3 linked regions of the Homo sapiens genome follow. The protein of the gene in region 1 purifies or fractionates together with the protein of each later gene. This does not show direct contact. Each region holds a gene or a part of one and is shown on either strand. Other genes may lie near its edges.

The links.
Region 2: the proteins of ARL11 (region 1) and SESTD1 purify together in Homo sapiens (affinity purification with mass spectrometry; 2 studies listed by BioGRID and IntAct, with this or other methods). This does not show direct contact.
Region 3: the proteins of ARL11 (region 1) and MTMR8 purify together in Homo sapiens (affinity purification with mass spectrometry; 2 studies listed by BioGRID and IntAct, with this or other methods). This does not show direct contact.

Annotation. Positions count from the first base shown.
Region 1 is NC_000013.11:49,626,169-49,629,922, forward strand, and holds the start of ARL11 (ADP-ribosylation factor-like protein 11), read left to right. Parts: upstream 1-2,338; 5' UTR 2,339-2,447; intron 2,448-3,754.
Region 2 is NC_000002.12:179,118,080-179,121,833, forward strand, and holds part of SESTD1 (SEC14 domain and spectrin repeat-containing protein 1), read right to left. Parts: coding exon 3,691-3,754; intron 1-3,690. UniProt on the Homo sapiens protein: May act as the primary docking protein directing membrane turnover and assembly of the transient receptor potential channels TRPC4 and TRPC5.
Region 3 is NC_000023.11:64,346,766-64,350,519, reverse strand, and holds part of MTMR8 (phosphatidylinositol-3,5-bisphosphate 3-phosphatase MTMR8), read left to right. Parts: intron 1-449; coding exon 450-578; intron 579-1,725; coding exon 1,726-1,860; intron 1,861-3,754. UniProt on the Homo sapiens protein: Lipid phosphatase that specifically dephosphorylates the D-3 position of phosphatidylinositol 3-phosphate and phosphatidylinositol 3,5-bisphosphate, generating phosphatidylinositol and phosphatidylinositol 5-phosphate.

The sequences.
Region 1 (3,754 bases):
ACAGTAGCTTAACAAAAACAATGACAACAACAATCTGGTGTTTGCCATTTACAAGGCACTTTCTGTGTGAGTAGCATGACATGGTAAAAGAGAAAGAGATGAATTATAAAACGCAGCAAGATCATGAGTCAATGATTCACCCTGTCCCAGCCTGCTTCTTTTTTTTTTTTTTTGAGACAGAGTCTTGCTCTGTCACCAGGCTGGAGTGCAGTGGCGCGATCTCAGCTCACTGCAACCTCCGCCTTCCGGGTTCAAGCGATTCTCCTGCCTCAGCCACCCGAGTAGCTGGGACTACAAGTGTGCGCCACCATGCCCAGCTAATTTTTGTATTTTTAGTAGAGATGGGGTTTCACCATGTTGGCCAGGATGGTCTCGATTTCTTGACCTTGTGATCTGCCCGCCTCGGCCTTCCAACCGAGCCTGCTTCTTTTCTTGTAAAATGGAAGAGTCATAACATCCAACTTGAGTCTTGATATTTTAATGAAATAATGCATGGGAAAGCAGAAAACAGCACAAAGATTACTGGTTATAAGAGCTAAATCACTGTGACTCCATATCCAAATTCAATACCTACTGAATCAGTGGTTTCTGACTAGTCAATTTTTTTTCTTTTTTTCTTTTTTTTTTTGAGACAGAGTCTCGGCTGGGTGCAGTGGCTCACACCTGTAATCCCAGCTCTTTGGGAGGCCGAGGCGGGCAGATCACTCGAGATTAGAAGCTGGAGACCAGCCTGGCCAACATGGCAAAACCCTGTCTCTACTGAAAATAAAAAAATTATCCAGGCATGGTAGCACGTGCCTGTAATCCCAGGTACTCGGGAGGCTGAGGTGGGAGAATTGCTTGAACCTAGGAGGCGGAGGTTGCAGTGAGCCGAGATTGTGCCATTGCACTCCAGCCTGGGCGCCAGAGCGAGACTCCATCTCAATTAAAAAAAAAAAATAGGAGAGAGACAGAGTCTCACTCTGTCTTCTAGGCTGGAGTGCAGTGCTGTGATCTCAGCTCACTGCAGCCTCCACCTCCTGGGCTCATGCAGTTCTTGGGCCTCAATCTCCCAAGTACCTGGAACTACAGGCACACATCACCATGCCTGGTTAATTTATTATTTTTTGTAGAGACGTGGTTTCACCATATTGGCCAGGCTGGTCTTGAACTCCTGAGCTTGAGCGATCCTCCTGCCTTGGCCTCCCAAAGTGCTGGGATTACAGGCATGAGCCCCCATGCCCGGCGACTAGCCAATTTTTTAAAAATTACATTTTCTAGAGGTGTCATTTTTACTGGGAAAAACACAGTGACACCATTCAAGAAAAAATTGAACGGTAACTTTAATCACTACATTAACACAATTTTAAAGGTTGATCTGCATCATACATACCTTTTAAAGAATGTTTTCATCATATGTAGACAGCTTTTTTTGTTTTTTGTTTTTGTTTTTGTTTTGAGGCAGAGTCTCGCTCTGTCACCAAGGCTGGAGTGCAGTGGTGTGATCTGGGCTCACTGCAACCTCCGCCTCCCGGGTTCATGCCATTCTCCTGCCTCAGCCTCCCAAATAGCTGGGCCTACAGGTAGGTGCCACCACGCCCAGCTAATTTTTGTATTTTTAGTAGAGACGGGGTTTCACCATGTTAGCCAGGCTGGTCTCGAACTCCTGACCTCGTGATCCACCCACCTCAGCCCCCCAAAATGTTGGGATTACAGGCCTGAGCCACCACGCCTGGCCATAGGCAGCTTTTAAAAGAACACATGTGCAGCCTGGCCATCATGGTGAAACCTGTCTTTATGAAAAATACAAAAATCAGCTGGGCATGGTGGCACCTGCCTATAATCCCACTTGCTTAGGAGGTTGAGGAGGGAGGATCGCTTGAGCCCTGGAGGCGGAGGCTGCTGTCCAGCCTGGGCGACAGAGCAAGACTCGGTCTCAAATAGAAAACAAAACAAAACAACAACAACAACAACAACAAACCATGTGTGATTCCAAGCAAATCAGAGAATCTCTAGCCACCAGAAAAACCTTGAGGCATGTACTGAAAGGAAGAGGTCAGAATTCTCTGCGAGGAGCTCAGAGGATCCTGAGGGAAGAGAGAAGGCGGCTGCGCTTGGACACAGCTCCGAGCTCGTGCTCCCTCCTTCAGGCACCCAAGTCTGAGTTGCTAAAAAATGGAGCTGTCACTGGGCCTTGCTCTGCCAGGACCTGCAGAGCCGGGGACCTCTCTGTGGCAAGCCCAGCAAGATGACTGCTCTGAGGCGCCCTAGGGCTGAGGGAGGGGCCGTGACACCAGCCCCGCCCCCCAGCCACCTGGGAAAAGGAAGCACAAAAAGGAGAAGCAGCAACGGCTGCTCTGCTTCCTTCCCATCTCGCTCTTGGGTCATGCCTGGCCAGCAGAAAGCAGCTCCATAGGGGAGGAGAGCCACGCAGGATCTCACAGCTGCAGTCTAATAGTAACACAGAGGTAATTTTAACTTTTTACTTTTCTACCCTTGGGAGTAGGGATGAGTAGAGGCTTACCTCCTTCCAGAGGCAGCTCATATCCCCCCACCCCCATTCCCGGAAGTTGAGATGTCTCTTCTCTGTTCCACGCAGGCATCGTCTAAGTTGGGAACAGGTCTTATGTCTTAAAATTTGGGATTCTTTAAAAACATATGTGGCTGGGCACAGTGGCTCACGCCTGTAATCCCAGCACTTTGGGAGGCCGGGCAGGTGGATAATTTGAGGTCAGGAGTTCAATACCAGCCAGGCCAACATGGTGAAACCTCGTCTCTAATATAAATACAAAAAGTAGCTGGGTGGTAGTAGTAGCTGTAATCCCAGGTACTCGGGAGGCTGAGGCAGGAGAATCCCTTGAACCTAGGAGGCGGAGGTTGCAGGGAGGCAGAGGTTGTGATGAGCCAAGATTGCACCACTGCACTCCAGTCTGGGTGACACAGTGAGACCCTGTCTCAAAACAACAACAAAAATGTGTGATGGCACATGCCCATAGTCCCAGCTACTGGGGAGGCTGAGGTGGGAGGATGGCTTGAGCCTGGGAAGTCGAGGCTGCAGTGAGCTGTGATCATGCCACTGCAGTCCAGCCTGGGCGACAGAGTGAGACCCTGTCTCAAAACAAAACAAAACAAAACAAAACAAAAAAACCCAAAAACAAACAAAAAAGCACATGTGGAGTGTTGTAGAAGTCATTGACCTTGGTAAGACAGTGGAGGAAACTGCTTTGCTCTGACTCATAAATTTGCCCCCAGTAAACAGTATTTATAAATAGCCCCAGTCAGGCACTGCATGAAGACATTTCAGTCAACGACAGACCACATATACAACGGTGGTCCCATAAGATTATAACAGAGCTGAAAAATTCCTATTTTTCAGCTTAGTGTTGTGGTGCAACCACTACCTTTTCTATGTTTAGATACACGAATACTTAGCACTGTGTTACAATAGCCTACAGTACCCATTACAGGAATGCTGTACCGGTGTGTAGCCCAGGAGCAATGGGCCATACCATATAGCCTAGGTGTGGAGTAGACTAGACCATCCACGTTTGTGTAATTACAATCTATGATTTTGTAAAATGATGAAATTGCCTAATGAAGCATTTCTCAGAATGTGTCCCCGTCATTAAGTGACACCTCACTGTGTTTCCAAGACATAGTACTGGTCCTTGGGAAGCTCTAAAGAGAGGTCACCGTGAGCTGAACCATCCTTCTCACTCTGTGCATGGAACCCAGCTTAGCTTCCATTTCAGCATTTAGGCTTATAGGAGGAGAA
Region 2 (3,754 bases), on another chromosome or scaffold:
CACATCCCAGCCTCCCAAGTAGCTAAGACTACAGGTGTGCATCACTATGCCCAGCTAAAGAAACATTTAAACATTAACGCTTTTCATTATATTATAGTACCTAAAATAATATTTAATTCTGATTTTTTTTAAAACCCTCCATCTACATTCTTAAAAACTAGATGGAGGGCTTAAAAAAACAAAAAAACTCTACTGACCTCTGGGTGTAGAGAAACACAATTCAAATTATTTTTTTAATCTCATTGTGGTCTTTTTGGATAATATAACCATTTAAATTTTTAAGGCAACTTAACCTAACTTAACTCTGGTCCATTTCCTTCATTTCCATGAAATTCTGCGTACTGCAGGTGGGATGGGGGACTCCCACTGCAGTCTCAAATACCGATAATATGTTACCAGACACTGTGCTCTACTATACTTGATGTCCTTAAAGAAAGCTTAATAACAATATAGAAGTAGGTATCACAAGGCTTTTTTTTAAAAAAAAATAAAGATGCTCTGAATAAAAGCTATAACATGACATTAAAATTCAACTTGGTTAAAGTAATTCTACAATGGACTGAAGGGAAGTGATAATTATTTTTTAAATATGAAACTAAAAAACAATGTAGGCCACTTTGATGAAGATGGTATCATACATATACTGTATTCAGGTATTAGATAATGTGTGCTGGGGAAAATATAAGATATGGTCTCTACTATCAAGATGCTCCCATTTGCAGAGATGTTATAAGTACTATTATAAAGCTATTTAAAATGTTTTATGAGAGTAGGGAGGAGCAAGTGACTAACTTGCCTTAGAAGTCCAAAAAGGCTTCCTAAAGTAAAGTAAGTATCCCTGAGTCTTGAAGAGTAAGTAGGAATTCACTGAGCAGAAAACAAGGAAACAAGTATTCTTAGTCATGGATGCATGAAACAGCATGATGCTTTCAGGGAGATAAAAACAACTGTGTGATTTTATGGGAATGTTATAGAAGATAAAATTATGCAAGAATTGGATTATGAAGGGTCTCCTACATTATTCCAAGAAGACAAACTCCATCTGAGCAAACAGGAAGTCACTGAAGGAAGTTTTACACAATTGTTGTACTTTATGAAAATTACACTTATATACAAAAAGCTGGAGAGTAGCCAGGCCAGAGGCAGATAAGAGTTTAAGATCTTGACCATAAATGTTTGAGATTCAGAGACAGCAGAACCTGGACATTTGATTAAGCTATAAGGGATGAGAAAGATGAAGGATTTTAGGATAAATCTCAAGTTTGGTAGCTGATGGTAACTTTAACCTAGGCAGGAAATTAAAAAAGGAGAGCAAGTTTTAGAGGAAAATGATTCCAGTCTGGACATACTAGGTGATCTGGTTTGGATCTGGGTTTTGGATTTGTGTCCCCACTTAAATCTAACATCAAAGTGTAATCCCAATATTGGAGGAGGAGCCTGGTGGGATGTGATTAGATGCCTCCCCTTCCACCACGATTCTGTTTCCTGAGGCCTCTCCAGCCCTGCAAAGCTGTGAGTCAATTAAACTTCTTTCCTTTATAAATTATCCTGTCTTAGGTATAGCAGCGTGAGAATGGACTAATAAATACAAGGGGCCTGGTGGGAGATGACTGGATCATGGGGGCACATATCCCCCTTGCTGTTTTCATGTCAGTAAGTGAGTTCTCATGAGATCTGGTTGTTTAAAAGTGTGCCGCACCTCCCCCTTCACTCTTTTCCTCTTTCTCCATCCAAGTAAGATGTGTCTGTTTCCCCTTCACCTTCCATCATGAGTGGAAGTTTCCTGAGGTTTCCCCAGCCATACTTCCTGTACAGCCTGTGGGACTGTGAGCCCATTAAGCCTCTTTTCTTTAAAAATTACCCAGTCTCGGCCGGGTGCGGTGGCTCACGCCTGTGATCCCAGCACCTTGGGAAGCCAAAGTGGGCGGATCACGAGGTCAGGAGTTTGAAACCAGCCTGGCTGACATGGTGAAACACCGTCTCTACTAAAAATACAAAAATTAGCCGGGTGCAGTGGCACCCGCCTATAGTCCCAGCTACTCGGAAGGCTGAGGCAGAAGAATCGCTTGAACCCAGGAGGTGGATGTTGCAGTGAGCCTTGATCATACCACTGCACTCCAGCCTAGTGACAGAGCGAGACTCTGTTTCAAAAAAAAAAGAAAAGAAAAGAAAAATTACCCAGTCTCAGGTAGTTTTTTATAGCAATGCAAGAATGGACTAATACACTAGATTTCAGCAGTACATGGGGCATCCCGCAGGCGACACTAAGTAGGCAATTGGAATTATGGGTCTACAGCACGGGAGAGCTGTAACTACTAAACCATGATCTATTAAAGAAAGTAATTCAAGTAGTGAGAATGTCCAGGGAGAATATATAAAGAAGGGAATCTGGCCTCAGAACAAACCCTGGAAGCAGTAACTTTAGCTAGTGGCCAAGAAATCAGTGACAAAAACCAAGAAGAAACAGAGAAGGATCATAAATGTGTTTTCAAGAAAGATGAAATCGAAAAGTCAGTTGTGCCTAACGCTAATCACAGTTAAGCAAGTCAAGACTAAAAGTATTCTCTGAACTTTAAGTAAGATACAGCATTTATTACGTTGGTAATGCTGGTAAGAGCAACACTGAATGAAATAGTTAGGGTAGAAGTCAGACTGAAAAGAGTTGAAAATAAATTGGAGGTAGTGGGGGAAGTAGTATGAATGTACCGTAAACCTATCCAAATGACTTAGCTGTGAGGAAGAGTTCTAATGCTAAAAGACAAAGAGTTGAAGAGGAAGACGTACCCATATGTGTGATTATTATTTTTAAAACAGGAGAAATTTAAGCATTTAAGTGAGGGCAGGAACCAGAGTAGAGAATGGGATTTGATGGAGTTAGGAGTCAGGAGGGTGATCAGAATCAGAGCCTAAATGGAAGCTCAGCTTTGATATTTTTTGATATAAACGGAGAGCTCTATCATCCTCTGTGGTGACAGAATAAAAGTAAGTTTGCAGATATGAGGGAAGAAATTTCTGCCTCATGACTGTTTTCTCTGTGATGCAGAAGGAAGCTTTCTGTGAAGTTTTGTTGATGATCATAAAATTTTTAAGTGTGCAAAATTTCATATAACCATGCTAGATTGTGTATATTGCATAATTTTAATCCTTTACTTTGCAATACTTTGTAGTTGCTATTGCAAACTGAGTTTTCAAAGAATCTTTTGAATTCCTAGTTTTATAGAAAATGAAACTAAACATCACTAGTCCACTGTTTAATCCTCCTACAGCAAATATGAGAACAATGAATGTGTGACATTCTGTAAGTTTAGATGAAGAAACAGATCAATGTAGATGACAAGTTTAATGGCAACTCTAAACTAAATGAAATTTAAAAAGCAAAATTATTCTTCAGTAAGTTTTTTTTAAAGCAGAAGAGTCATAGACTACACTGGGGATATGGAATTTGAAATAGTTGAGTATAATTGAAATTTTTACAACCCAATAAAAAGGAAAATGGTACCTAATAATTGAATAAATTATTACTATGTTAGTAAAATTATATACAGTAATTATCACATTCACCAAAAACCTACTACATGTCTTCTATATAACAGTTAAGAACGTTTTGTCTGTATATAAAATGTTATATAACTTCATTTTAACTAATATTGTTATTATTTTAGTAAAAAGTAATTAACGGTCAAACTTTGCCTTTGTTTTCTAAGCTGCATATCTTCCATCACTCCTTGTATGTGGTCCACATTTTCTTTATTTT
Region 3 (3,754 bases), on another chromosome or scaffold:
ATTTTCTAGAAAGGAAGGGATTGAGACATATAAGAACAAAATGTACTTTTAGAATTAGAAAAACAAAAATCATAGACAGAAACACACATAAAACCCCATGTTGAAATTCCTACGTGTGCATATCAGAGCAAAAACAATAACTGTAAACAAGTGAATTAATATGAACGGACACAAATATGAAGCAGACAGGTAGAGGAGGAGGAAATATGATGTACTCTTTCATAAACTACATACTAGGTTCCTAGTATTCATATCTGGACGGCCTTTAAAACACTAGTCTTGGGGTGGAGGTGTTGACATTTTAGGTGTGACTTACTCTATGAAAAGACTGACATATTTTCTCAAGTTTATCAGCTTTTAGTGGTTACCAAAATACGTATTTCCAAAGAGACAGTTATATATAAATGTATAAATATATATTTATATATATTGTGCTTATTTTCTTTTAGATATGCAGCACCTACCCTCCTGAAATAGTGGTTCCTAAATCTGTTACCTTGGGAACGGTGGTTGGAAGTTCAAAGTTCAGAAGTAAAGAACGTGTCCCTGTGCTCTCCTACCTCTACAAAGAGAACAATGTAAGTTAAGCAGATTTCTCTAATGATAATTAAACATGGCTCTGGAAGACCTGTTTTAAGTTTCATGCTGCCACTTAGTAGCTGTGTGACCTCAGGCAAGTTACTTAACTTCTCTGGACTTTCATACTTCTGAAGGTTTTTGAGAGGATCTCAGTAGGAATAATATGTACAATGTACTTTGTAAATTGTAAAATGTTATGCAGATGTTAAGTGTCATTTTAGTATGTTTATTTCTTTTTCTTTTTTTCCTTTTCTGTGGGATCCAGCTTTGTGGAAAGTTGTGAAATGACAGAAAATTAGTTGTATACAGGATTTTTTGGGGGCTGTGGCCTCCCAGTAGAATACAGATATCCTTGATACTTTCTTAGTGCTTTTCATATAATTTCAGGTAGTAGTAAGAAAGCACTTGACTCCTCTGTGTTTCAATCCCCTTACTTATGTAGGAAGTGATAATATTTATCACCTCTTGTAATCACTCTGAGATCTGGGGTTAGACAAATAGGCAAGTTGTCAGGTGGGCAACCGTTCAAGTGCTAAGGAGTATAGTAATGCAATTGGGTGTCATATTATTGAAGTGAGTTGACCCCTTAAAAGCCACATCAAAGTGTAACGAATTTCATGAACTAATCATTACCAGACATTCATGTTAAATAGTTACGTTGTTTTTGTGTTAAAGTGGCTTGAAACAAACCACCCTTCTGATTTGGCATTAACTTCTGAAACTAGTGAACCCTGTTTTCTTAAGACGCTGTAGATCTTTGCTCTATCTTGAATTCTGCTGCCTCCGCAAGCTTATGGTTTATGTGGGCAATATTACTGGGACTGTAAAAAGTGAGGCGGTTTCAGAAAAATAGCCCATTATATATCGAGAATAGAATTTCACTAAGGAAATACTCATGATGTGATTTTTTTTGTAGTCTGATTTACCAAGACTGGGTTGGAAATTAGAGCCACATGCCCAGGGTAGGCAGGAGGTTAAGCCCAATGTCAGTGGAGAATGACTTTAGAGTCACATTTCTCTTTGCTTTGGACACTATCTTAAGTTGGCTCATCCTCTCCCTCTACTCATGGAACCTGGCAAGGGTCAAGAAAGATTTTTGACCATTTGTGAATATAATCACTCAACTGACACACCTTTTCCTTACAGGCTGCCATTTGCCGCTGTAGCCAGCCTCTCTCTGGATTTTACACTCGCTGTGTAGATGATGAGCTCTTGTTGGAGGCCATTAGCCAAACAAACCCAGGGAGCCAGTTTATGTATGTTGTAGACACAAGACCAAAGGTATCTATTTCTCAGTGATTTCTTTGATATTTCTGCCTCTTGCATTCTACCTCCTCATATATTGAGACATGCAGTGTTATTGGGAAAGTTAGGTTTGTGTATGTGTGTTTATTATGTCAGACATTGTGTAAAATCATTTCAGGAAGCCATTTGGGGCTCCTTTTATAAGGTTGCCACTGTCAAGTGAGGTTATGAGAGGGTATTTCAAGCAACCTGTCTTTCCCACCTCAGTGTGACGTCCTGCATAGAAGGCTCCTTAACATCCCTCATCTTTTTTACCAAGTCTGTTCCTTAACCAGAATTTTCAGTATTCCCATTCTGTGGTCTAGATTTACTGTTAGAGAAAGAGCTTCAACTTAGACATTGGAAACTTACTACAACCAACATGTTTTTTTTTTTTCTATAAATGTGTTAGGCCACAGTAATTTAATAATACTTTGGTTCTCCCAAAGCACCAGGGTTCACAAATTTTACTGCTATGCAATTAACAAAAAATCTTTAGCTCATATGGCAGTAATTCTTTTTTAGCATCTAGTACTGTTAGCTGATTAAATTTTTGCCGGTTTAGTACAGTGCAGTTTAAATCTTCGTCCCAGAGAATTAAAAAGACCAAGTTCATAAATTTGCCGTGGATTTTGGCAGTGGACATGGATAGACCTAGTCAAATCCTTTGATCTTTCCAATAATCTAATGCTGCATGATTTGTTGCAATGTGTTTTCTCAGGCTTTGTCTCTTTCAAATATGAACATTGCTGAACAGAGTGTCCTCATGTTAACCTAAGTATCAGCTTAAACTCCTCTCTGCATTAATTCCTTAACCTTCAAAGTTTTGTGTGGCTCTATATGGGCTGTAGAAGAACTCATTGTGTCCCACAAAAGAAGTAAAGGATAGATTCCATATTCTTAAATGTTGTCCTTTTTACAAACAGCCCCAGAAAGAAATAATTTTGCTTATAATTTGGTATGTAAAGTGTGACTGACTAAGAGGTTTCATTGCTGATTCTAGTCATTACTAAATTGGTGATTTTCATCTAAGCCTAAGCCAGATGGTTGTGACTTAAGAGTTGAGCAGTTGGATGTACATGAAACCAGATAGTTGCCTTAGACAGCTTTCTGCCCCATCTTTGTGATCCCTCAGTGGCTATTCTCCAGAGCTACCTAGGACTGACTGAGCTCAGGAGAGAAAATAATTTCCCTTTCTGTTCAGGCCCATCCTTCAGTTTCTCAGAAGCTTGCTGTCTTGTTTCAGCCATAACTGCATCTGAAATTCTGCAATTGAAAAGAGTTTAATCGAGTCTGTATCTTTAAAAATTAAATAATCTTAAAATAGTAAAGAGAAATACACCAAGCTTTTGAAGAAACAAAAGAGTTGGTGCCTTTTGTTCAAATCTAACACCAAAAAGCCCCCTTTTTTTTAACAGGTTCCATTTTCCTCTCTCCAATTTGAGCAAATTAAGACAGGCCTAGAAATATCTGGCATTCCCTCTCTTCTGGATGGCTAGATCCGTACTTTTAGTAGGAACTATATTATACTGACAAAATTTTGTTCTAGGAGTCAGTCAAACCTGAGGTCAAATCCTGCTTTCAGCCTTTATCCATATCATCTTGGGCAAATTGGTTCATCTCTCTGAGCCTGTTTTCTTATGGGGATAATATAGCACCCATTTTGAGAGGCTGTAATGAGGATTAAGTGAGATAATGTACATAAAGGATTTAGCACAGTGTCAGGCATATAATAGGAGCTCAATAAATATTACATTACAATAAATATTACATCTGACATTCTGCAATTGGAAAGAGTTTAATCGCGTCTGTATCTTTAAAGATTAAATAATCTTAAAATAGTAAAGAGAACTACACCAAGCTTTTGAAGAAACAAAAGGGTTGGTGCATT